Linked DNA regions of Homo sapiens. The protein of the gene in region 2 interacts with the protein of the main gene of each other region in a biochemical or structural test. Each region holds a gene or a part of one and is shown on either strand. Other genes may lie near its edges.

Evidence for each region.
Region 1: the proteins of TGFBR3 (region 2) and TGFB3 interact in a biophysical measurement, tested with the Homo sapiens proteins (one study listed by IntAct).
Region 3: the proteins of TGFBR3 (region 2) and NRP1 form a complex in vitro, tested with the Homo sapiens proteins (one study listed by BioGRID).

What each region holds. Positions count from the first base shown.
Region 1 is NC_000014.9:75,957,958-75,965,244, forward strand, and holds the end of TGFB3 (transforming growth factor beta-3 proprotein isoform 1 preproprotein), read right to left. Parts: intron 5,531-7,287; coding exon 5,359-5,530; coding exon of another isoform or gene 5,355-5,358; exon of another isoform or gene 5,104-5,354; intron 3,120-5,103; coding exon 2,966-3,119; intron 1,389-2,965; coding exon 1,230-1,388; 3' UTR 140-1,229; downstream 1-139. UniProt on the Homo sapiens protein: Transforming growth factor beta-3 proprotein: Precursor of the Latency-associated peptide (LAP) and Transforming growth factor beta-3 (TGF-beta-3) chains, which constitute the regulatory and active subunit of TGF-beta-3, respectively.
Region 2 is NC_000001.11:91,882,914-91,890,936, reverse strand, and holds the start of TGFBR3 (transforming growth factor beta receptor type 3 isoform a precursor), read left to right. Parts: upstream 1-4,785; 5' UTR 4,786-5,059; intron 5,060-8,023. UniProt on the Homo sapiens protein: Cell surface receptor that regulates diverse cellular processes including cell proliferation, differentiation, migration, and apoptosis.
Region 3 is NC_000010.11:33,184,632-33,191,918, forward strand, and holds part of NRP1 (neuropilin-1 isoform a precursor), read right to left. Parts: intron 1,861-7,287; coding exon of another isoform or gene 1,858-1,860; coding exon 1,586-1,857; intron 1,094-1,585; coding exon 997-1,093; intron 1-996. UniProt on the Homo sapiens protein: Cell-surface receptor involved in the development of the cardiovascular system, in angiogenesis, in the formation of certain neuronal circuits and in organogenesis outside the nervous system. Mediates the chemorepulsant activity of semaphorins.

The DNA.
Region 1 (7,287 bases), on a different chromosome or scaffold from region 2:
GCCCCCTGTGTAAGGGGAGTTGCGCTAAGCAATGTGTTTGGTGATTGACAGATTCTCTGCCCCAGATTCTGGTTACCTCTGATTAGTAGATGCGGACATGGAATTAAGGGTAATTGAAGGATATTTATCGAGTCAGACATACACCTTAGAATAAGGCTTTTACTGTTCTAGAAACAATATTCCAGAAGATGAAATCATCCAGGATGCCCCAAAAATATTTATTTATACAAAGATTTTGAGAGTAATATTCATACTTGTCTTTATACCTCAGTCTATGCGTCTGGGGCCAAGTCACTGTGTGGCACATGTGCAGCTTCCCCGAATGCCTCACATGTTGTAGCACCTGCTTCCAGGAACACCAAATGAACACAGGGTCTTGGAGGGGAAGTGGGGGAAGAACCCATAATGCCCCAAGGCTGCATGGAACCACAATCCAGAAATGTGCATCCTGACCTGGAAGGCGTCTAACCAAGTGTCCAAGGGGAAATATGATCGAGGGAGAGGTGAGAGGAGGGACCCAGAGGGCAGACAGGAGAGGGTTGATTTCCACCCTTTCTTCTGCGTTCAGCATATCCAAAAGGCCCAATACAGTTGATGGGCCAGGAACTGCATGACCTGGATTTTCTCCCTGTAGTGACCCACGATGTTAATTGATGTAGAGGACAGTTTGCAAAAGTAATAGATTTGCCCTTAATCCCAGACAGTATGAGATACAATTCTGGGACTTTGTCTTCGTAACCTGTCTTTAAAAAAAAAAAAAAAATGCTTGCCTTGTATAACATAATCCAGATTCCCTAGAGCAGATGTGGTACAGCAATGAGCAAATCCAACCTCAGATCTGAAGTGTCTTCCAGTCTGGCCCTGACCCAGCCATTCTCTGCCCTTCCTTCTCCCTTTAGGGTAGCCCAAATCCCATTGCCACACAACATCTCAACTTACCATCCCTTTCCTCTATCCCCATCCCCTCTGTCTGCGTCACAGAAAGTCTGTGTGTTCTGAAGAGTTCAGCCTTCCTCTAACCAAACCCACACTTTCTTTACCACCGTGATTCTCAGAGCCAGCAAGAAAGAAATGTTCCAAAAGGAAACCTCCATCTCAGCCATTTGCCCGGAGCCGAAGGTTGTGGGCTCCAGGCCTCTCAGTGAGGTTTGTTGCTTGTGTGTTTCCCGAGGAGCGGGCAGTCAGGCAGTGGTGGTTCTCTCTCCCCTCTCTCTGTCGCACGTGGGGTCTCAGCTACATTTACAAGACTTCACCACCATGTTGGAGAGCTGCTCCACTTTGGGGGTCCTCCCAACATAGTACAGGATGGTCAGGGGCTCCAGGTCCTGGGGCACGCAGCAAGGCGAGGCAGATGCTTCAGGGTTCAGAGTGTTGTACAGTCCCAGCACCTGGGAAGGGACATGTCAGTGAGAGGTTGGAAGGCCAAGTCTCAGGCCTGGAACCCAGGAAGTCGCCCAGTTCCAGGGGCAGTCCCAGAAGCTGAGCAAGTGCTAGAATGGCCACGGGTGCTCTTTAAGAGGAACTGTTGGGGGCCGGGTGCAGTGGCTCACAGCTGTAGTCCCAGGACTTGGGAGGCAGAGGCAGGCAGATCACTTCAGGTCAGGAGTTTGAGACCAGCCTGGCCAGCATGGTGAAACCCCATCTCTACTAAAAATACAAAAAAATTAGCTGGCTGTGGTGGCAGGCGCCTGTAATCCCAGCTACTTGGGAGGCTGAGGTGGGAGGATCACCTGAATCCAGGAAGCAGAGGTTGCAGTAAGCAGAAATAGTGCCACCGCACTCCAGCCTGAGCCACAGAGTGAGTCTGTCTCAAAAAAAAGAAAAAAAAAAAAACTGTTGGAACCTGGTTTGGGTGAGTGAGTAGTTGTGTAGTTGCTGTTCATCCACAATGACAGAAGCAGAACAACTGCACTTGTTTGGGGTGATGAGTTGAAGCATATGACAGTTACTACACTGATAACGAATTATCTTGGCTTTTTTTTTTTTTTTTTTTTTTTTTTTTTGAGTCAGAGTCTCACTCTTTCACCCAGGCTGAAGTGCAGTGGTGCAATCTTGGCTCACTGCAACTTCCGCCTCCTGGGTTCAAGCGATTCTCCTGCCTCAGCCTCCCAAGTAGCTGGGATTACAAGCGCGTGCCACCACACCCGGCTAATTTTTTACATTTTTGGTAGAGACAGGGTTTCACCATGTTGGCCAGGCTGGTCTCGAACTCCTGACCTTGTGATCCACCCGCCTTGGCCTCCCAGAGTGCTGGGATTACAGGCGTGAGCCACCGTGCCCGGCCTATCTTGGCTTTTAAGAAAACACTTACATTGCTCTTCCTAGCTGGAACTGATCACTTCGGTGAGAAATGTTCTCACAAAACATTGCCTTGAGCCATTTAGTAAGTGCAGCGTGCAGGGCCCCAGACAGGATGCAGAAACAATGAGCTAGAAGGAAACATGCTTCACAAATTACTGCCCTATTTTTGATTCCCCTCAAGGGAAAGACAGACTAGTTTCAGGGGTTGTGGACTCTCGGCTATCTCACTTTCTGTTCCTAGCATTTCAAATTAGCTTCTTGTCCATCCTTGTTGTTGTCTTTCAGAGTAAGTTTTCTACATTCGAGAGGCTGGAATGATCAGAGTTCTGATAGAAGCCTTTCTACTTCAGTGTTCCTTGCCAGCCACATGCACATATCTCTGACATAGGGTAACACGTGGCAGTTAATTAATTTCTACGGTACAGAGAGCTTTGGACAAAGCAAATTAAAAAGCTGGTTGAAACTATGGTAGGAATTTAAAAGGGCAGAATGTGACTGAGTAGAACTGAGTCAGGGTGCCAAGATCAGAACCTTCACCAGAGGAATTTTACTCACCCCAGACCATCATTTGCTCACTCAACATTCAATCCTTCACTCATTCTTTTTAACAAGTGGTCTGGTCGGTCAGCCCCAGTGCCTCAGATGGCATGAGCCTGCTCCATACCGTGCTGTGGGTTGTGTCTGCACTGCGGAGGTATGGGCAAGGGCCTGAGCAGAAGTTGGCATAGTAGCCCTTAGGTTCATGGACCCACTTCCAGCCCAGATCCTGTCGGAAGTCAATGTAGAGGGGGCGCACACAGCAGTTCTCCTCCAAGTTGCTACAACAAAAAACATTTATAGAAAATCAACTTAAAACCACCAATAAAAGAAACTTCATGAATGCTCTCATATTCTCCCTTGGAGTCCTTTCATGCCATCATAGGTGGCTCTGATCAATGGAATCCCAGGTTCAAGGGCATGGGGCAGAAGAAACCAGAAAGGCACATTCATGTGTTAAAGACCAGGATCCCAAGGATGTAAGAAACAGAGATAAATGCTGCATGAGGAAGAGTAAAGAGGCAAAGGTGGCCCTGCACCCTTTTCTATCACAATACAAAGCAGTGCTATGAAGCGCTCCACATAAAACCAAGCACTGAATGTTATTAGCCAACTCAGCTTTGTTGAGGTTGGTTTTATTTTTACCCTCCTAATGTGCACCCAGACAGAAATCAATTCTAAGTTTATGCAGCTTGACTACTATAGTAGGTGACTGCTGAGACTCAATCCAAAGGCCATTTAGCCAAATAAGGCATATCCTTCTATTAGAACCGTGGTTCAACAGATCACCCAAATGTGATTATCAGGCCCCTTCAATTCTGTTGCCTACAGAGATCATTTGGCAATAATACCGCTTGCCAAGTGGACAGCTAGCCTCTGCTTTAATATCTGCTGAGACTTAGAACTTGCTACTTCCAAAGGCAGCTATTAGCCAAAATCTGGCTTCTTGTGGGTTCCAAGGGTGAACCATGGCAGACACCATTGGTTATCTATTCAATAACCATTCCTAACTCCCTTCTCCCTTGTGACATCCCATTACAGAGTCGAAAACACCAGATGCTCCTTTTCCTGTCCTCCCTTGAGAGTAGCGGTGGTCATGTGACCCAGTAATGACCCATCAGACAAGGAGAAGTATGCAGGGGGTAAGGGCAAGTTCTGGCAAAGATATTCGATTATTTATAAAAGTGACAGATGGAAGAAGAAAGCTTCTGGCTCTTCCCCTTCCCTCATTCCTTCTTGTCTTAAATGTGGACAAGGTGCCTGAAGCCCTAGCAATCACTTGTGACCATAAGGAAAAGGATGAAAAGCCAACATACTAAGCATGGCAGACTGGAAAGAGAGAAAGCCTGAGTCTTCGGTGGCATCATTAAGCAGCCAGCCCACCCTAACCCTGCTGCTACAGGCCTCTTGTGAACAAGAAATCACTATGATTAAAGTCACTGGCCAAGATCATTCGTTCCTAACTGATTCGTTCCTAACTGATAACTGATTCGTTCCTAACTGATTTGTTCCTAACTGATGGAATAAATAAATCTACATGCCAGCCTTTGTGGCAACTACCTTGCCTCTCCTATACCTTGCTGTTGAGCTGTTCCCCCAACTGAACATCCCTAGTTTCCCAAGCCCAACCATCCTCATAAGACATGGTTTCCAGATCTAAATATTTCCCAATTCGTTCTCCCCAGCTTCATTTCGGCATCCTCTGAGGCCAGATGGACTCACTCACTCATGCTCCTTCCTTTACCTGCAGTGCTTCCCCTCCTGGATCCCTTCATCCCCAAACCTCATCCTTGAAGCCTCTGCTCAAATTCCACACCCTTCTGAAGCCTTTCCTGTGTCCATAGGTGAACTCATTGCTCCCAGTTAAAGCACTTAATCCTTCGGACCCTCTCATGGGCGTGATCATCTTCTCCCTTTTAGTAGTTGGCATGCATACTTTATCCTCCCTTTATAAATGAGCAGTGAAACTGCTCCTGAGTAAGAGAAGCTGGGTCTTTTCTATCTCTCTATTGTGGCTACCCAGTAATTTCTGAATTCATTTGTTAATTTCTCTAGCTCCAACTTTCCGTTCAAATGGAGACCATTCTATTTGCCTCCATCCAGTAGCATCCTTGGACCCTTCATAGGGAACTAACTGAGCACTTCTTTAATGGAAACTCCTACATTAATCTCACACATACACTCTACAAGTGCTTAAAACATGGAAATCATGGAGAGGCTTTGACCAAGCCTCTCCAATCCAAACTATTTTAGCAACACTCCTCCTCACAGAGTTTTCCTCATTTACTTCAGCCAGCTCCTTCCAGAGTTAGCCTATGGAAAAACAGTGGGACTCCCAGGAAAACAGAAAGAGATTTCACAGAGAAAATCTCTGTGAGAGATTTTCAGTCTTCTTCCTGGAGATGTTTGTGAATAGCATCAGGGACCCTCTGTTGAGTGTGGCTTGGCTCTGGGGCCTGACCTAGCCATTGGGCAGTAGGCAGGCAGTAGATGTTGGTTCCCATGTGGGCCCAGTCTCACCGGAAGCAGTAATTGGTGTCCAAAGCCCGCTTCTTCCTCTGACCCCCCTGGCCCGGGTTGTCGAGCCGGTGTGGGGGAATCATCATGAGGATTAGATGAGGGTTGTGGTGATCCTTCTGCTTCTTGAGGCGCCCCAGATCTCCACGGCCATGGTCATCCTCATTGTCCACGCCTGAAGAAGGGAAGGAAAGTGACAATCTCCTGTCTGAAGAGAGCAGAGCCCTTGGAGGCTGCCTCCTCCACACGCCCCATCACTGCCCAGGAGGAGGGGCAGTGCAGTCTGCGAGGGAGGTGTGGGGGACAAGTGCAGCTTAATTCTGATGTCCAGGTGCAGAAAGGGGAAGAGCAGATGGAGAAGCCAGTATCAAAAGAACTCATTATTATTGTAAGGATGCCCACTGAAAGATGCCCCGTGTTCAGATCCCCATACCCTTGTATAGAAATCTTCCAAGGGGCAGAAAGCCCTTGCTGAGATTCCTAGGAATCTTCATGGACCTATGAAGCATCCCTGTTACTAAGTGGGTACCTAACACATATCTCCGGGTTGTCGGCTTGTTTATTTGTTTGTTTGTTTGTTTTGAGACAGAGTCTCGCTCTGTTGGCCAGGCTGGAGTGCAGTGGCCCCATCTTGGCTCACTGCAACCTCTGCCTCCGGGGTTCAAGAGATTCTCCTGCCTCAGCCTCCCAAGTAGCTGGGATTACAGGTGCATGCCACCATGCCCAGCTATTTTTGTATTTTTAGTAGAGACAGGGTTTCACCATGTTGGCCAGGCTGGTCTCGAACTCCTGACCTCAAGTGATCCGCCCACCTCGGCCTCCCAGAGTGCTAAGATTACAGGTGTGAGCCACTGCACCCAGCCCTGGATTGTCACTTTAGATTCTAGACTTAGAATCTTGGGGTGTGAGTTTCCTCTTAAAATGTGAATGGACCAAGATAACGCAGAAGTCCTACCAAAAATTTAAGGTGTCACAACTTAAGATAGCCTGAATGGGAGCCAAAGAAACAAGACTGTATAATTGTTAACATTCACATTGCACTTAGAGTCTTTGAAGTGTTTTCACTATAAAATTCAGATGAGATAATGAAGCATATGATAAATAGCAAATAAGCTCTGGAAAGAAAATCTAAATTCATCAACCCGTTTCATCTGAAAAAAAAGGAAAAGACTGGAGACTGACTTAGAAAGAGTCTCAACTAAATGGAGATCGATTTTGCGAAGGACAGCTGCCAACTGTTGTCCATCCTCACTGAGGACAGGAACATGAGGAATTAATTTACATAGCTACAGGAGTGGCTCGGGTCTCAGGAAGGGGCACCAGATCTGTAAGATAAATGAGAGACCTGGATCACAAATCCCTTTTTCTGAAAATCTTTATGAACAAGATAAGTATTCACTGAAATGGGAAGGTTTCATCCTAAGCTGGCCTGTAGGTAAGGACTCCAAAGGTCCTCTGGGCTCTAAGGTTCTGTGGTTACAGTGTCAAATCTTTGGCTTTAAGAAAAGGCTGTAAAATAGAGCCCATGTGGGGTAAGATCACTGTCCAGCGCTGAGCCAAAAGAGGCCTGCACCTTTTCCCAGACAAGCCTCTGACCTCAGGCGTTCCGCAGTTACCCAAAATGGGAATATGAAAGGAAAAGAGAACTTCCCTGAACTCCAGAGATCATCAAGGCTGAGTTCCTTGCAAACATAATGGAAAACCAGAAATGACTCTCAACGACTTCGCCATCTCTACCCAAACACCCCGGGGACAAACACCCTGAGGCTCGAAGCAATCATCCAAACCCAGAGGACCCCTGGGCAAGGTCAGGTAGGCCCTGCACATCTGGAAAGCTCAGTTGTCTGGGCACTCATGTTCAGGACAGCCAAACTTAATTTCTTTTAGGGAGGAGGAAGACAAGTCCTATCTGTTGAGCATTTCTGGCACTGT
Region 2 (8,023 bases):
GACAGTGCAAGACTCCGTTTCAAAAAAAAAAAAGGAAATATGAGACTCTCTTTTTATGAGTAGAAGGTGTCTTTCACCTGTAGCACAAAGTGGAGGTTCAGAGCATGAACGGATTCTGTAGCCAGGCCACCTGACTCTGCCACTTGCTGGTTGTGTGACCTTGGGCAAGTTACATAACCTCTCTGTGCATCATTTCCTAATCTGTAAAATGAGGATAATAGCTGGGCACAGTAGCTCATGCCTGTAATCCCAGCACCTTGGGAGGCTGAGGCAGGTGGATCACGAGGTCAGGAGTTTGAGACCAGCCTGGCCAATATGGTGAAACCTTGTCTCTACTAAAAATACAAAAATTAGCAGGGCGTGGTGGCGTGTGCCTTTAGTCCCAGCTACTCGGGAAGCTGAGGCAGAAGAATCACTTGAACCCAGGAGGTGGAGGTTGCAGTGAGCCAAGATGGCGCCACTGCACTCCGGCCTGGGCAACAAGACGGAAACTGTGTCTCAAAAAAAAAAAAAAAAAAAAAAAAAAAGATTATAGAGAAACAACCAAATGATTTTTCTAATGATAAAGTCTTTTAGACTTTATCTGATTAAAGAAAGTCTGATTAGCAGACTGTGAACTGCTAATCAACAGAATCTGGAGACATGCCACTAAATCTGAGTCACTGTCAACATGTGAGTCCACACCTACAGGAGGGGTGGTTCCTTGTATGAAAAACAGCCTCAGTAAATCACTGAAACTCTGCTGGCAAACATTTTTAATGCAAGTAATGCACCTCAATTTCACCCCCCTGCTTACAATCCTGTTTGAAACAATTCCAAACAAATGACCAAGAAACCACTTTGGACCAAAAGAAAGCTGGTATCTTACAGTAACAAATACTGTAGCTTGAATGCAGTTCTCCATGAGAAATTAGTGAAAGGGAGCATCCATTCCCTTAGAAATCAGTTAATATTGCCATTAATAAGAGGTTGGGCAACTGGGCACGGCAGCTCACGCCTGTAATCCCAACACTGTGGGAGGCCAAGGTGGGTGGATCACTTGAGGTCAGGAGTTATGGCAAAACCCTGTCTCTACTGAAAATACAAATATCAACCAGGCATGGTGGTGGGTGCTGGTAATCCCAGCTACTTGAGAGGCTGAGGCATGAGAATCACTTGAACCTGGGAGGTGGGGGTGGGGGTTGCAGTGAGCTGAGATCGCGCTGCTGCACTCTAGTCTGGGCAACAAGAGGGAAACTCCGTCTCAAAAAAGAAAGAAAGAAAGAAAAGAGGTAGGGGAACCCTTTTTTATAGAGCTTTGCTCAGGAACCAAAAATTCAAGTTTATTTTAAACCTTTCGTCTATGCTTGAGGTATCTGGATTTCTGCTTTTAATATCATATTGTAAAGATTTAAAGAGAAAACATCTCTGTAGACATTGTTAATTTTGTAAATACTGATGTAATTTCTTGTGTTTTTCCATATCATCTACTGAAACTAAATAGCTCAGAATTAAAAAAAAGAGCCCTTTTATTTTGCCAGTCTATAAAGCTTCTGATGACAGGTAGAAGAACCTGGTGGTTAAGGACTTAGGTTTTGAGGTCGGTGGATGTGAGATTGAATCGTGGACAGGTTTTGAGGTCGGTGGATGTGAGATTGAATCGTGGACAAGATCTCAGTTTGTATAAAGGCATGTATATCGGCCTCATTTATACATATTCTTAGAGGGCTGTGAGAAGTAAATGTGTTTATATGTATAGAATTTAGTACCCATGGCCAGGCGCAGTGGCTCATGCCTGTAATCTCAGCAGTTTGGGAGGCCAAGGCGGGTGGATCACTTGAGGTCAGGAGTTCGAGAGCAGCCTGGCCAACATGGTATGAAACCCCGTCTCTACTAAAAATACAAAAATTAGCCAGGCATGGTGGTGCGTGCTTGTCAATCCCAGCTACTCAGGAGGCTGAGGCAGGAGAATTGCTTGAGCCCAGGAGGCAGAGGTTGCAGTGAGCTGAGATTGCGCCACTGCACTCCAGCCTCGGCAGCAGAGCGAGACTCTGTCTCAAAACAAAAACAAACAAACAAAAAAGAATTCAGTACCCACGCTGGCTCAGATGTTGATGGTTACTGTTGTGAATCTGGCTCTACGGGGACCAGTCACTTCATCACTCTTTAAAGACAAGACACTCCTAAATTATCTACCAGGCCATTTTATTTAGAAGGCCTTAACATGATTGATACATTTAATTTAATTTTATTTTTTTGAGACAGAGTGTTGCTCTTGTCCAGGCTAGAGTGCAATGGCACCATCTCAGCTCACTGCAACCTCTGCCTCCTGGGTTCAAACGATTCTCTTGCCTCAGCCTCCCAAGTAGCTGGGATTACAGGTGCCCGCCACCATGCCTGGCTAATTTTTGTATTTTAGTTGAGATGGGGTTTCACCATGTTGGTCAGGCTGGTCTAGAACTCCTGACCTCAAGTGATCCACCCACCTCGGCTTCCCAAATTGCTGAGATTATAGGCATGAGCCACCTCACCTGGCCGATGCATTTAAATGTGGGATTAAATATTCACACCTAGTTCAAGTGTTCACATCTGTACTTGAAACTAAAACTTGTTAACAAGGCATAAATACTGTATTAGTCTGTTTTCATGCTGCTGATAAAGACATACCCGAGACTGGGCAATTTACAAAGGAAAGGTTTATTGGACTTACAGTTCCACATGGCTGGGGAGACCTCACAATCATGGCAGAAGGTAAGGAGGAGCAAGTCACATATCACGTGGATGGCAGCAGGCAGAGAGAGCTGGTACACGGAGACTCCTGTTTTTAAAGCCATCAGATCTCGTGAGACTTATTCACTATCATGAGAACAGCACAGGAAAAACTCATCCCCAAGATTCAATTACCTCCCATTGGGTTCCTCCTAGGACACATGGGGATTGTGGGACTTACAATTCGAGATGAGATTTGGGTGGGGACACAGCCAAACCATATCAAATACTGTTTAATTTGAGTCTAGGAGAAATCTTAAGGCCTTAAACTTAGACTTTATAAAAGCAGAGGCTAGCTCCATCTGGACTGTTTATTCCTTCAGAATATTATGCCTACTTGTATTCCCAATGCCTGACTCAGGGCTCTCCCATAGTCAGTGCTCAATGAATATTGGTAAGGAAAAAAATGGTTCAGTGAGGAGATTTTTGCAGTAATTCAGGTGACTGATGACATTTGACCTTTGTGAATGAATCTCCAATTCTGCAATTGGGTGGATTCTCTGCCTATAGGTACAAGAGGAAGAGGACGAGAAATATTTCCTGTTCTCTCAATAACTTTCCAAATAACATGTCATAAGAAGCCTCCTCATTCTACTCTCCAACATATTAAAAGCCTAGGATTGAGCCAGGTGCAGCGGCTAACGCCTCTAATCCCAGCACTTTGGGAGGCCAAGGCAGGCGAATCTCTTGAGCTCAGGAGTTTGAGACCAGCCTGGGCAACTAAGTGAGACCCCCGCCCTGCCAACCCCCTCTACAAAAAATACAAAAAGTTAGCTGGGCGTGGTGGCATTTGTCAGTAATCCCAGCTACTCAGGAGGCTGAGGTGGGAGAATCGCTTGAGCCTGAGAAGCGGAGGTTGTAGCGAGCTGAGATTGAGATTGTGCCACTGCACTCCAGCCTGGGCGACAGGGCGAGACTCCATCTCAAAAAAAAAAAAAAAAAAAAAAAAAAAGGCATAGGTCCATAGCCCTTTAGAACTGGAAGAAGCCTTCTAGGCCAAGCCCTTCATTTGAACTGAGCCTTGACGGGTATTAGCCGTTAGCCATTTGTGGAAGGTCGCACAGTAGTCAGGACTGGAAGTCTGGTCTTTGAAACCTGTCAGTCCACGGTCATTTCACCTGCCTGTTTGTAAAACAATGTCCTGTTACTTAAGTATACTTTTTAATAAGAAAAACTGGGTGTAAGCAAGAGTATCAGAGTGGTGTTCTGGTGCCAGCAGTTCAACTTCTGCAGCGTGTACTTCACAGGCACAGGTACTTAGGACGTCGCACAGGCACAGGTACTTAGGACGTTGCCCCGCCGAGACTGTCGTTCATATCGCGCCCACCTCCGGGTAACGCCGGTAATGCTGACCTAGCTCCATTATTTGTATTAATTTATTTAGCTAGCAGGGGGAACGGCTGGGTAATGCAGTCTCAGCTGCTGGAGGGGAAGAGGCAAGACTCCGCCGGCGCCCACCATCAGAGCGTGACAACAAGCGGGACCGGAGGTTGGGAAAAAGCACAGGGACAGAATGAATGTGTGCATGGGGGAGCTCTGCTGGGGAGAGGGCAAGAGGCTGTGATCAGATTATCTGAGGTTTCAGAACTTTTATATAAAGACCAAGGAACCAAATGAAAATCCAACTCTTCCAGGGAGCCCTGGAAAGTTCAAAGGACCTCGTTTGAGGGAGCGAGTCCCCGCAGCTCGTGCCCACGTCTCCCTCGCGCTTCCCCCAGGACAGGGGCCGCCCCAACCCGGGCACGCTGAGCCCGGCCGCGCCCCTAGCCCCTTCTCTCTCGGCCTCCTCGTCCCGAAGGGAAGCACAGGCTCGAGCAGCATTCGGGGCTCATCCATCAGCCGCGGAGGCAAAGGGGGAGGAGAGAGGAGGCGGGAGGCGGGAGGCGGGAGGAGGAGTTTCTGGGCGGCCGAGAGCCCCCGGTGGGGCCGGCGGAGGAGCGCCCTTCCCCCCGCGCGCTGATTGCTGTGGCGTCCTGCCCGTCCCCGCCCGCGTGTGTGCGAGGGAGGGCGAGTGCGCCGGGTCGGCCTGATGGGGGTAATCGAGGGTTTCGGGGACGCCGAGCGGCACTTTCCTCTTCCCAGCGAGTGAAGGAGGGCAGTCGGCGGCTCTCGCGCCCCGGCCACTTTCCCTGCGCGATTCCCGGAGCTCCCTGCAGGAGGTGAGAGTCCCCAGCGGGTCCGGATGGCGTAGTTTTGCCGCGGCGCAGCAGCTGCCGGAGCTCGCCGCCGCCGAGCGCTGGGCGGGGAAACTTGCCGCCGCTTTCCTCCAACTTGCTGCGGGTGGATCTCCGCTGGACACACCGCCTCCGAGGTACGTGCCGGCCCAGCCCCGCGGCGCTGCAGCCCGCCCGGGCTGTGGGCTCTGCAGGCTGCGCGGGTGCCCGTCGGCGCGGCGCGGGCTGCCAGTGCCTACTTACCGGCCAGGGTCGCTCCAGCCGCCAGGACCTCCGGCCTTGGGAGGGAGGCGCTGGTGGGGCGGTGTTTACCCTCCGGGGAGCAGGCACCGGTGGCCAGCGGTGCGTGGGCAGCGGCCGCACGGGGCAGGCAGTGCCCCCGGCGATGCGCAGTGCTGGGGAGGAATTCTCCACGCCCGCCCTCACTCTTCCTCTCCGCGGGTCCTTCTGACCCCTGCGGGGCGCGGCGGCCACTTCCCTCCGGGCGCGTGACAGCTTCGGTGGGAATGGTTTGTTGTGGGTTCGCAGTCAATTGCCGTGGCCCAGGCTGTGGCTCCCGGACTCGTGCACGGACGCGGTTTGCGTTCCCCGCTGGCCGCGCCCTCAGGGTGCCTTGCGGGCTGAGCCGCAAGCTGCAGCTCGGCCCCCCCCCGCCCCGGTTTATTTTGAAGGCTCTCTTCTTGTATTCATTTGGTTAGGACAAACTTGGAAATCTTGGACTGTCGCTAGAAGAATCTGCTTGCAGACTTGATCTTATTAGGGCATTTGCCCCGCTTTGCAGAATCGCATAGTGTCAGGAGCCGACGTGTCAAGCATGAATTACCTTGGCAAAGTAGAACTTAGTGGATTTGGTGTCCTCACGAAAAGCTGGAAGAAGAAAACCGTTCCATTTCCCTAGCTGTGAAGTGAGGATAGTAGTACTTGCCCCGTAAAGTTGCTGTGAGCATCTAATGATTTAATGTGTGTGAGGTGCTACAACAGTGCTTGGCACCGAGTAAGCACCGCACGGAGGTTAGCGCTGCTTGCCGCTAGCCCTGCGGTGGCAGGATAGGAGCGGCGAGGGCAGAGGATAGTAGGAGTGACAGGCTGTGCTGGGGAACCAGGCGTATTCTGAGTTTTATGTCCTTCCGAAGAAGTGAGCGGTTTGGGAGAAGTCTCCACAGGTAGTAAAAACACACGTCAAGACCGTTTCTTCTTCCTGAATGCAGAGTGCAAACAGTTACTTCAGTGTGAACTCAGTTGTTTCTTTTGGATAATAATAACAGCTAACGTTTTCTAAGCCCATACTGTGTGCACTTAATCCTCACAGCATCTCTATGGGAAAAGCACTATTAATAACCCTATTTTACAGATAAGACACTAGAGGTTAAGTTACTTGTCCAAGATCATACATAACTTTCTGTTAGTTCTGACTCCAAAGCTACCTTCCTTCCTCAGCGGAGAGCGGCAAGTGCAGGCCGATTTGTGTGTACATAGATTTGTGTGCATAGTCCATGCATCTTCTCCCATCTTTCAGCTTTCTATTTGAGCTGAACGCATATCTCTTGAAACACACATAAGGTATCTGTGATGAATTTAGGCGATTTTACATACTTATGAGGGTGCCCAATTAAAGTTCCTCTGAAACTGGCCCCAAATAATTATAAATAGAACTCTGACTTGTATTAATTAACATGGAAATTTTTTTTTTTTTTTGGTGACAGAGTCTCGCTCTGTCCCCAGGCTGCAGTGCAGTGGTGCGATCTCGGCTCACTGCAACCTCCACCTCCCGGGTTCAAGAGTTTCTCCTGACTCAGCCTCCAGAGTAGCTGGGACTACAGGCGCGCGCTACCACGCCCAGCTAACTTTTGTATTTTTAGTAGAGACGGCGTTTCACCATGTTGGCCAGGATGGTCTCGATTTCTTGACCTCGTGATCCACCTGCCTCGGCCTCCCAAAGTGCTGGGATTACAGGTGTGAGCCACCACGCCTGGCCAACATGGATCTTTATTCTTAATTTCTTTTATTAATTCTCCAGACATTGTTGATCACCATTACTTGGCTTCCTTAGGAAACAGCTTGGGGTTGGCACAGGAGGCAGGGAAATAATTCTTACCCCCTTAAGGGCTATTAACATGAAATTGATTTCATGCCATTGTGTCAGTTAAAGGATGTTGCTCTATTTCTTGCTGTTCTTTGCTTTTGGCTTTATTTCTGCATTGTTTAGTGTTTCAAGGCTTGAGCGTTTTTTTTTTTTGGCCCTTCAGTTTGACATTTGTCAACTTTAATTTTTCCTGTTTTGATGGAATCTGACCGTTACACGGCAGCTTTGCCTAACAACTGTTGATTCAGCTCATGTTTTTAAATATAAAAATCACCAACATAGTTTTGAATCCCAGCACTTCAAAGGCAACCCGTGGGGAGTTCATTGTTATTTTGAATATTAGTCAATAGGGGGAGCATAACACACTGTTGATATCTATAAGGCGCATAAACCCGTTTTTAGAGTATTAAACATATAGTTTGAAAGGGGAGGGCAAAATATCTAGCAAAATAACTAAGTTGCTTTTGGAGTTTATAATGGAGGACTAGATTTAATTTGAACTGATTAAGAATGACCTTGAGGACAGGGCCTGTATGTTGAATATATGTCAAGAACTCCATGGTGGCTGGACAGATAGATAAACACACATATAGTTTTTTTTCAATTTGTTTCCTTAAGTGGTGTGTAGGCCAGGCACAGTGGCTCACACCTGTAATTCCAACACTTTGGGAGGCTGAGGTAGGAGGATCACTTGGCCAAGGAGTTCGAGACCAGCCTGGGTAACATAGTGAGACCCCCATCTCTTTAAAAAGTGAAGTTTGTATGTAAACTAATTTTGTGTGGTTTGAATAATATTTCAACTTACCTGGGAGAAATGGAAATCCAGAGGAATTTGTTGTGAATCCTTTTGTAATGATCCTCATTTGTGTTTTGTAGAAAACTGAATATAATGAATTTGTTCTCAGGGAGGTTGGTGTGTTCACAATCCTGTCATCATCTTTCATTAACATCTTCTAAGTGCAAGACAATAGGGGATCAGTAATCCTAAATAACAGCAGTTCTATTACTGTGAATTCCT
Region 3 (7,287 bases), on a different chromosome or scaffold from region 2:
TGAAGATTTGCTAAATAGTGCAGCACTAAGCAGATTCCCTTTAATAGTATGAAGAAGCAAGCCTTTATTCATTGCTCCTTTCTTTTTGCCCAATTTCTTCGATGGATCCTATCAAATTATTGCCGCTTTAGGGATTATATATATTCAATATATTATATAATAAAAGCTTTGTAAGTTGCTGAAGTGACCAAAACCCCCATTACAGCCAACAGACCTCCTTTGTCTTAAATTGGCCCAATAGGCTTATCCCATTTTGTTATAATTAACATCCTATTATATAATGATGTATAACAAAAGTTTCAATGTAGCAAATGGAGCTGAAGACTAATTACTGTGCTATTACACTGCCATTAGTAATGCTATTTGTAATTATATATCAAGAACTAGGGAATATGAATTGGTTTTCTATGTCTTACATCCACCTAGTACAAGACCCATAAAGACCAACTCTGAAATACTAGGCCAAGTCTCTGAATCTCATTGAAGTCCTTTAAGTCATTTCAGATATTTTAAAAGTCAGAAACATCTACTTGTGATAAAGCAAAGAATTATGGCTTCTATGGTTCATTAACAATGCATTCTTAATTAAACTTATTCTGATCAAAGTTTTCAGAGGCCTGCTGTTTTGTTTATACACCCAGATATTTGGAATTATCCAGATGTCTGACTTTCCACTGTTCATCAAAATGTTTCGGTATGGCATCTATAGCTTGTAAGCTGGGTCTTCTTAGCTATCATCTTTGGATTCTGCATTATTTGTGGAGTTTTATAGGTATCAAGCAGCCATTATGAAGGACCTAGGGTAGGTGACGGGGCAGACACAGGTAAATTGGGCTGATTGTATGCCCTGTTGCACCAGAATACGCATTTCCTATGATGTGCCGAGAGGCCACACCGAAATTCTAGGTAGAAATGAGCAAAACAAAGACCATCATATTGGCAAGAGTCTTGCCCTGGGCAAGCACTCCATTGGTTTCTACAGCAGCTCATACTTACTTGCACAATCTTCTTGTGAAATGTGGTTATTAATACTAATGTCATCCACAGCAATCCCACCAAGGTTTCCTTTTCCGATTTCGCCCTCGAAAATCACCTAACAAAATAAGATCATTTTCACAGTATTGAAATGCTCATCTCACATGGCAGTGTTTACAAATGCTTGTTCAGCTCCAGCTACGGCACATAAATTAAATTCATCAGATTCAGCGTAACACAGACTTCACTCATCAATCCACATTAGCTGCCTGGTGATGGTATGCACCTTCTCCTTACACTCTCTTCTTATAATACAAACTTTAAAACGGGAGAAAGCAGCAAACAAAAGGAATGATACATTGTGAAAGCCCAGAAATAGATGACACGGAAGCCCTTTGTGTTCCTTCTCAGCAAATTGGTTCTATTCCTGCAATCTAGGAGACTGTGAAATCTGCTATTAAGGTGGTTATCATTGCAGCAATATCTCAGGGTTGGGAAACACTGGAAATAATTTCGGAATAATTCCCATGTCTCATTTGCACAGCCTCCAACATATCATCTCAGCATTCCTGCAGCCACTGCCCTCCCCAGCCTTGGGAAGAGGTCATACCTGATAAAGTTTCAGAGACTTGTGGAGCAAGACACGCCCTTCCTTCCAGTGGTCACCTTGGTGTCCAATGGCCATCCAGACCAGCTGATCGTACTCCTCTGGCTTCTGGTAGCGCAGTTTGACCCTGAGTGTGCCGACGTGGGACCCAGACATGTGATACCAGAAGGTCATGCAGTGGGCAGAGTTCTGGGAATAAACCACAGGGCTCACCAGGCGAGCCACTTTGCCCTTCTGATTTTCGTCAGCTTGGGAATAGATGAAGTTGCCATCTCCTGCTGTGACAAAGAACTGTGTTAGGGAGAGTGGCCAGGATTACCACACTTTTATCTCTCTTCTTTCAAGTCTCACTAATCAAAAGCTTCCTGCGCTGAGCACCAAGAACCCAAATACGTAGTGGAAAGGGATAAGTGTGCACACTTGGGGACCTCATGGGCACCTAAGGCCCTGCTCTCAGCTCTTGCAAAATGGACATTTGATTAGGGGAAGGCTGAGTGGCACTAATTAGGATACTACTTATAATGGAATGCATTTTCATATGGACACATGCTATGCCTCAAGCTGGCATTTGCACCATCACAAGCAAACTGAAAGCAAAGTCTGTGCATAGACTGGACTGAAAACTCCTGGCTCTTAGAGAAACCTTATTTATTTATTTATTTATTATGTTAGACACTCCTGTTGCCCAGGTTGGGATGCAGTGGTGTGATCATAGCTCATTGCAGCCTCAAACTCCTTGGTTCAAGTGATCATCCTGCCTCAGCATTCTGAGTAGCTATGACTACGGGCCCATGCCACCATGCTCAGCTAGTTCTTAAAAAGATTAATTTTTTTTTTTAAGTAGAGATAGAATCTTGCTATGTTGCCCAGGCTAGTCTCAAACTCCTGGCCTCAAGCAATCCTCCCACCTTGGCCTCCCAAAATGCTGGGATTACAGGCATGATCCACCACGCTGGGCCCAAGAAACCCTGTTTTTATGCAACTTTAAGATCACACTGCGGCACCCATGTGAACACATGCATTAAATGAAATCATTGAGATGTATTTTTATTTATCATTTGAGCAGCAGGACTTCTGATTAATGAAATTTCTGTCACTATGACTGCTTGATAATCATAAACCTGTAGTTTTTCCTAATAATGTAGTAATCTTTTTTTTTATACTTTTCAAGTTCAGATTATTTTTCCCGTAGTTTGTTTTCATGGTTTTCGAATTCCTTAAACACACCTGAGAGCTTGAATCTCTACTGTGAGCCCTGCTTCTATTTGATGTGGGCTTCTGGCTCAAGGAGAGGCAAGGTTGCCTTGTTGAGGTTCATTAGAACGTGCCATTTTGGCAACTTAGACACTTGCTGAACTGCGAGGACTTTCTCTTGGCTTCGCTTTTAATGACCCCCACTGGGAACATTTCCTCCTGCCACCACCTGGTCAACACAGCTCATGTTTCACTGTTGGCTCTGCAAATAGAAATCATCTTCTCTAACACCTCACCTGATTAAGTGTGAATCTGCTGCTCGGGCCTCAGTGGGCAGCAAGAGGTTGTGTTTGTTGCCCAAGAGACTTGTGTGTTTGCAAGGTGCTTTCTCACTGTGCACACGTGGGCACATACTCCTTTCCGCTTGCCTGTGTCAACAGTGTCCAGGTGGATGTGGACGTGTTCATGGGCAGCTTCCTTTCCTTACCTGGTTGCTTATGTGAGAGCCCGCCCTTCTTCAAACCAACGGGTGGAATCATAAAGGAAGGGTGTTCACAAATGGCAGCTCTAGCAGTAGGTTTGATACTGCAGGATGAATGTCCCTCTCGCTCTCTGACCTTGCAGGTGTCCTCTGTGACTGAGCTGATCCATTCACACTTAGGATTTGTTTTGCCCACTAATTTATCAAGATGTGATTACTTGTCTGTGGGATGGTGCCATTTCACTGTGATGAATCCACCACGATGGGAAAAAAATACACCCATCGTGCCTCTGTCCCCTCAATCTTACGGAAAAAAGACTGAAATTGGCAATGCTGCTGCCATGTCTTAATCCCACTTATTGAGCTCATTGCTCAAAGTTTATTGAGGCTAGTCAGAGAATGGGTGTTAGAAAGAAGGAGAGAAGTGGACGTAGGTAGAGGGATGCTCTCCCATAGGACATCCTCACTCAACTGCACCATAATCACTTCCCATCCACAACTAGACAGTAAGTTCCTCAAGCACAGAGACCCCCTCCTTCATACCTGTATTTCCAGTGCCCAACACAGCACCTGCCATGTAACAGGGCTTCTCAAATGATGCCTGTTCAGTGCAGTAGGAGAGATGCCAGATTTCAAGAATCCTCTGCCTGAGGAAGTTCTTATGGTCCCTGCCTTCTCACACTGTGGTCTTTAAATATGCTCGTGTGGCCGGGCGCGGTGGTCCACGCCTGTAATCCCAGCACTTTGGGAAGCCGAGGTGGCTGAATCACCTGAGGTCAGGAGTCCGAGACCAGCCTGGCCAACATGACAAAACCATGTCTCTACCAAAAATACAAAAATTAGCCGGGCGTGGTGGCGGGCATCTGTAGTAGCTCCTACATAGCTGTAGTCCTAAGTAGCTGGGACTACAGCTACTTAGGAGGCTGAGACAGGAGAATCGCTTGAACCTGGGAGGTGGAGGATGCAGTGAGCCAAGATCACACCACTGCACTCCAACCTAGGCAACAGAGACCCTGTCTTAAATATATATATATATATATATATATATAAATTAAAACTGCTCGTGTTGCTCCTCTGCTTAGAATTCTTCAGAGGCTGCTCACTGCCTGCAGCCTATCCACACTTCTTCACAAAGAGGGAGCGCTGGCAGCCCCTCCAATGGACCTTTTATCCACCCCCATCCTGTTTTCCTCCTGGTCACTGCATCACCAACTTAAGGTATAGTATAAAGAACCAGCAGTGTCCTGCCAAACACACACACACACACACTCACTCACAATAAACACCCGATCCACAAACTTCTGCTCTACTCAGTGAAAATGGAAGGAATCCAATTTCATCAATTTCCTTGTCAATCTCATTAGGCAAGGAGGTAGTTCCCAAAGTCATGCACACTCTGCCTCTATCTAACTGCTTCCCATACAAAAACCTGTGCAAAGCACACCAAACATGAGCCAGTAAAATAAGCCTAGCTCAGCCGGTGTCTGAGACAGGGCTGCTTTCCTTGACCCCTCTTCCGTCATCTTTTACATGGTCCATTGTCACTGGCCTCTGCCATTGGAAGCCCTCACTGAACTGCACTGTGGTTGCTTCCCAACCATGATCAGACTGCGAGTTCCTCAAGCGTAGGGACCTCTTCCTTTACACGTGTATTTCCAGTGCCCAAGTCAGCATCTGCCCTGTAACAGAGCTTCTCAAATACCACTTGTTCACTGAACCAGGGAGAGATGCCAGACTTCAGGAATCCTCTGAAAGGAGGTACCTAGTTCCATTCTTTGAGGTCAAATGCAGAAAACCAAGCAAATGGGATGCCTTTCGATAAGCAGCAGGATATTTTACCTAGCTAGTGTTCATTTTCTTTTTAAACAACCCAATGTCTGGCTTGCAAAGTTTCACCAAATAATATTATAAAAAAAGCACCATCTACTCTCTAATGTCAGTCTATGCGCGGGAGCTTCGTGAAGGGCTCTTTTCATCTGGATCTTTTTCCCGTTAACAAGTAGTTCCTGCCTTTCAGATGTCGGGCTCACCCATCTCTCTACACAAATGATTGTGTTTCTAGAACTGCAGGGGCTCTTTCTAGTCGGAGCTGACCTGGCACAACTGCCAAGTAAATCTGGGTGGCTGAGAGAACAAAAGAGTCAAACCCTTCTGAAGGAATCGCACTTCTCAGCTGTTAATCTACGACAAGCTCTCCTTCTCTGATACTCTAACACATAAAGCACTGATATTTTCCCTTTCAAGGGTTTTATCACAGTTCTGGGTCAGGAACTCTGTCTTCATTTTCTCAATTAGCACTTTACTTCTGCAAGCCTTTTAGCTTTTGTCTCTGGCTAACATAGCTTTTAACCTCCTTTGAATGTCAGATCCTACTGAGCCATTTTGCTTCACTTTGCATCAATTTTTCCACCATTACTGCCTTCATTTTGGCTAATTGCATTTAGTTAATTTGATGCCATTTATATGTACAGTGCCATTTACAGTCAAAGTATTTTAAGTTTTCTAAAACTGCCTGTCTTAAGATTCAATTGAAAGTGTCTCAGATTTGAAGGAGTCCAATTTTATCCAATTTCCTTGTCATTCTCATTAGGCAAGGAGGTGGCTGTGGTGGAAGGAGGCCTATTCAACCTATTTAATGGTTATATTCACTGGGAGAAAAGTGAACCACAAAATGGGAAAGGCATGAAGTACCCTTGGCCCAGCCTTCAGTCCACTGACTCACTCACCCAAAGAGCCAAGATGGGGAGAATTTAATGAGATTTCCTAGCATCAGCAAATGCCCCCCTGGGGTACCTTTTGGGAAGCCACTACTTGAGCAAGCAGTGCTCTGTAAGTATTTCTGAGTGGGTGCAGAAGTTCATGGATTGGGCGTTTGTTGTGAGTGTGTATATGTGTGTGTGTGTATGTGTGTGTGTGTGCATGTGTGTTGGGCCAGACATGGCTGGTTATTTCTTTATTTTTAATTTTTATTTTTTTCTCTTTAGAGACAGGTTCTAATTCTGTCACCCAGGCTGGAGTGCAATGGTGTGATCATAGGTCACTGCAGCCTTGAACTCCTAGGCTCAAAGGATCCTAAAACAGACTCTGAGTAGCTGGGACTACAAGTGTGCGCCCTTATGCCTGGCTGATTTTAAAAAAAAAATTTATTTTGTAGTGTCAGTATCTTGCTATGTTGCCCAGGCTGGTCTCTAACTCTCTAACTCAACTGATTCTCCTGTTCTGGCCTCCCAAAGTGCTGGGATTACAGGTGTGAGCCACCACGTCCAGTCTGCTGGTCCTTTATACTGTACTTCAAGTTGGGCAGTGAAATGACTAGGTGGGTAGCAGGAAGGGGGCAGATAATAGAGTTCACTGGAGAAGCTGCCAGCTTTTTCTGTCCCCCAACCCATTCCTCCCCCACCAATTAATCTTAGGAAGAAAGTAAGGCAGGAGGTGGTGGGAGGGTTGTGATCTAGGGCATGGTGAGGTTTCTACCTGCTCAAAGGAAATACACTACACTTTCAATCTTTCCCCAGTGAATAAGAATTCCACACCGTCTTTCCCCACCTCCCCTTCAAGGGTCGGGAGAGAGCAAGCATTGTGAATTGTTTCTTTAGTTGTAAAATAAACGAGGGGACATAATATATGCTTGGACTTGTTTGAAAATAATTCAGAGTCAGGGATGACAGACATAAATTAAGTTTCCTATGATCTGATAATTGTTGAAGCAGGGTCGTGCACATAGAGAATTCATTCTACTATTTCTTTTCCATTTGTGAATATGTTTGAAATTGCCCAAAATAAGAAGTTCAGAAAAAGTATAAGATGAGGCTAGTTGCGGTGCCTCACACCTATAATCCCAGCACTTTGGGAAGCTGAGGTGGGTGGATCACAAGGTCAGGAGTTCGAGACCAGCCCGGCCAATGTGGTGAAATCCCGTCTCTACTAAAAATACAAAAAATTAGCTGGGTGTGGTGGTGTATGCCTGTAATCCCAGGTACTTGGGAGGCTGAGGCAAGAGAATCGTGTGAAGCCAGGAGGCGGAGGTTGC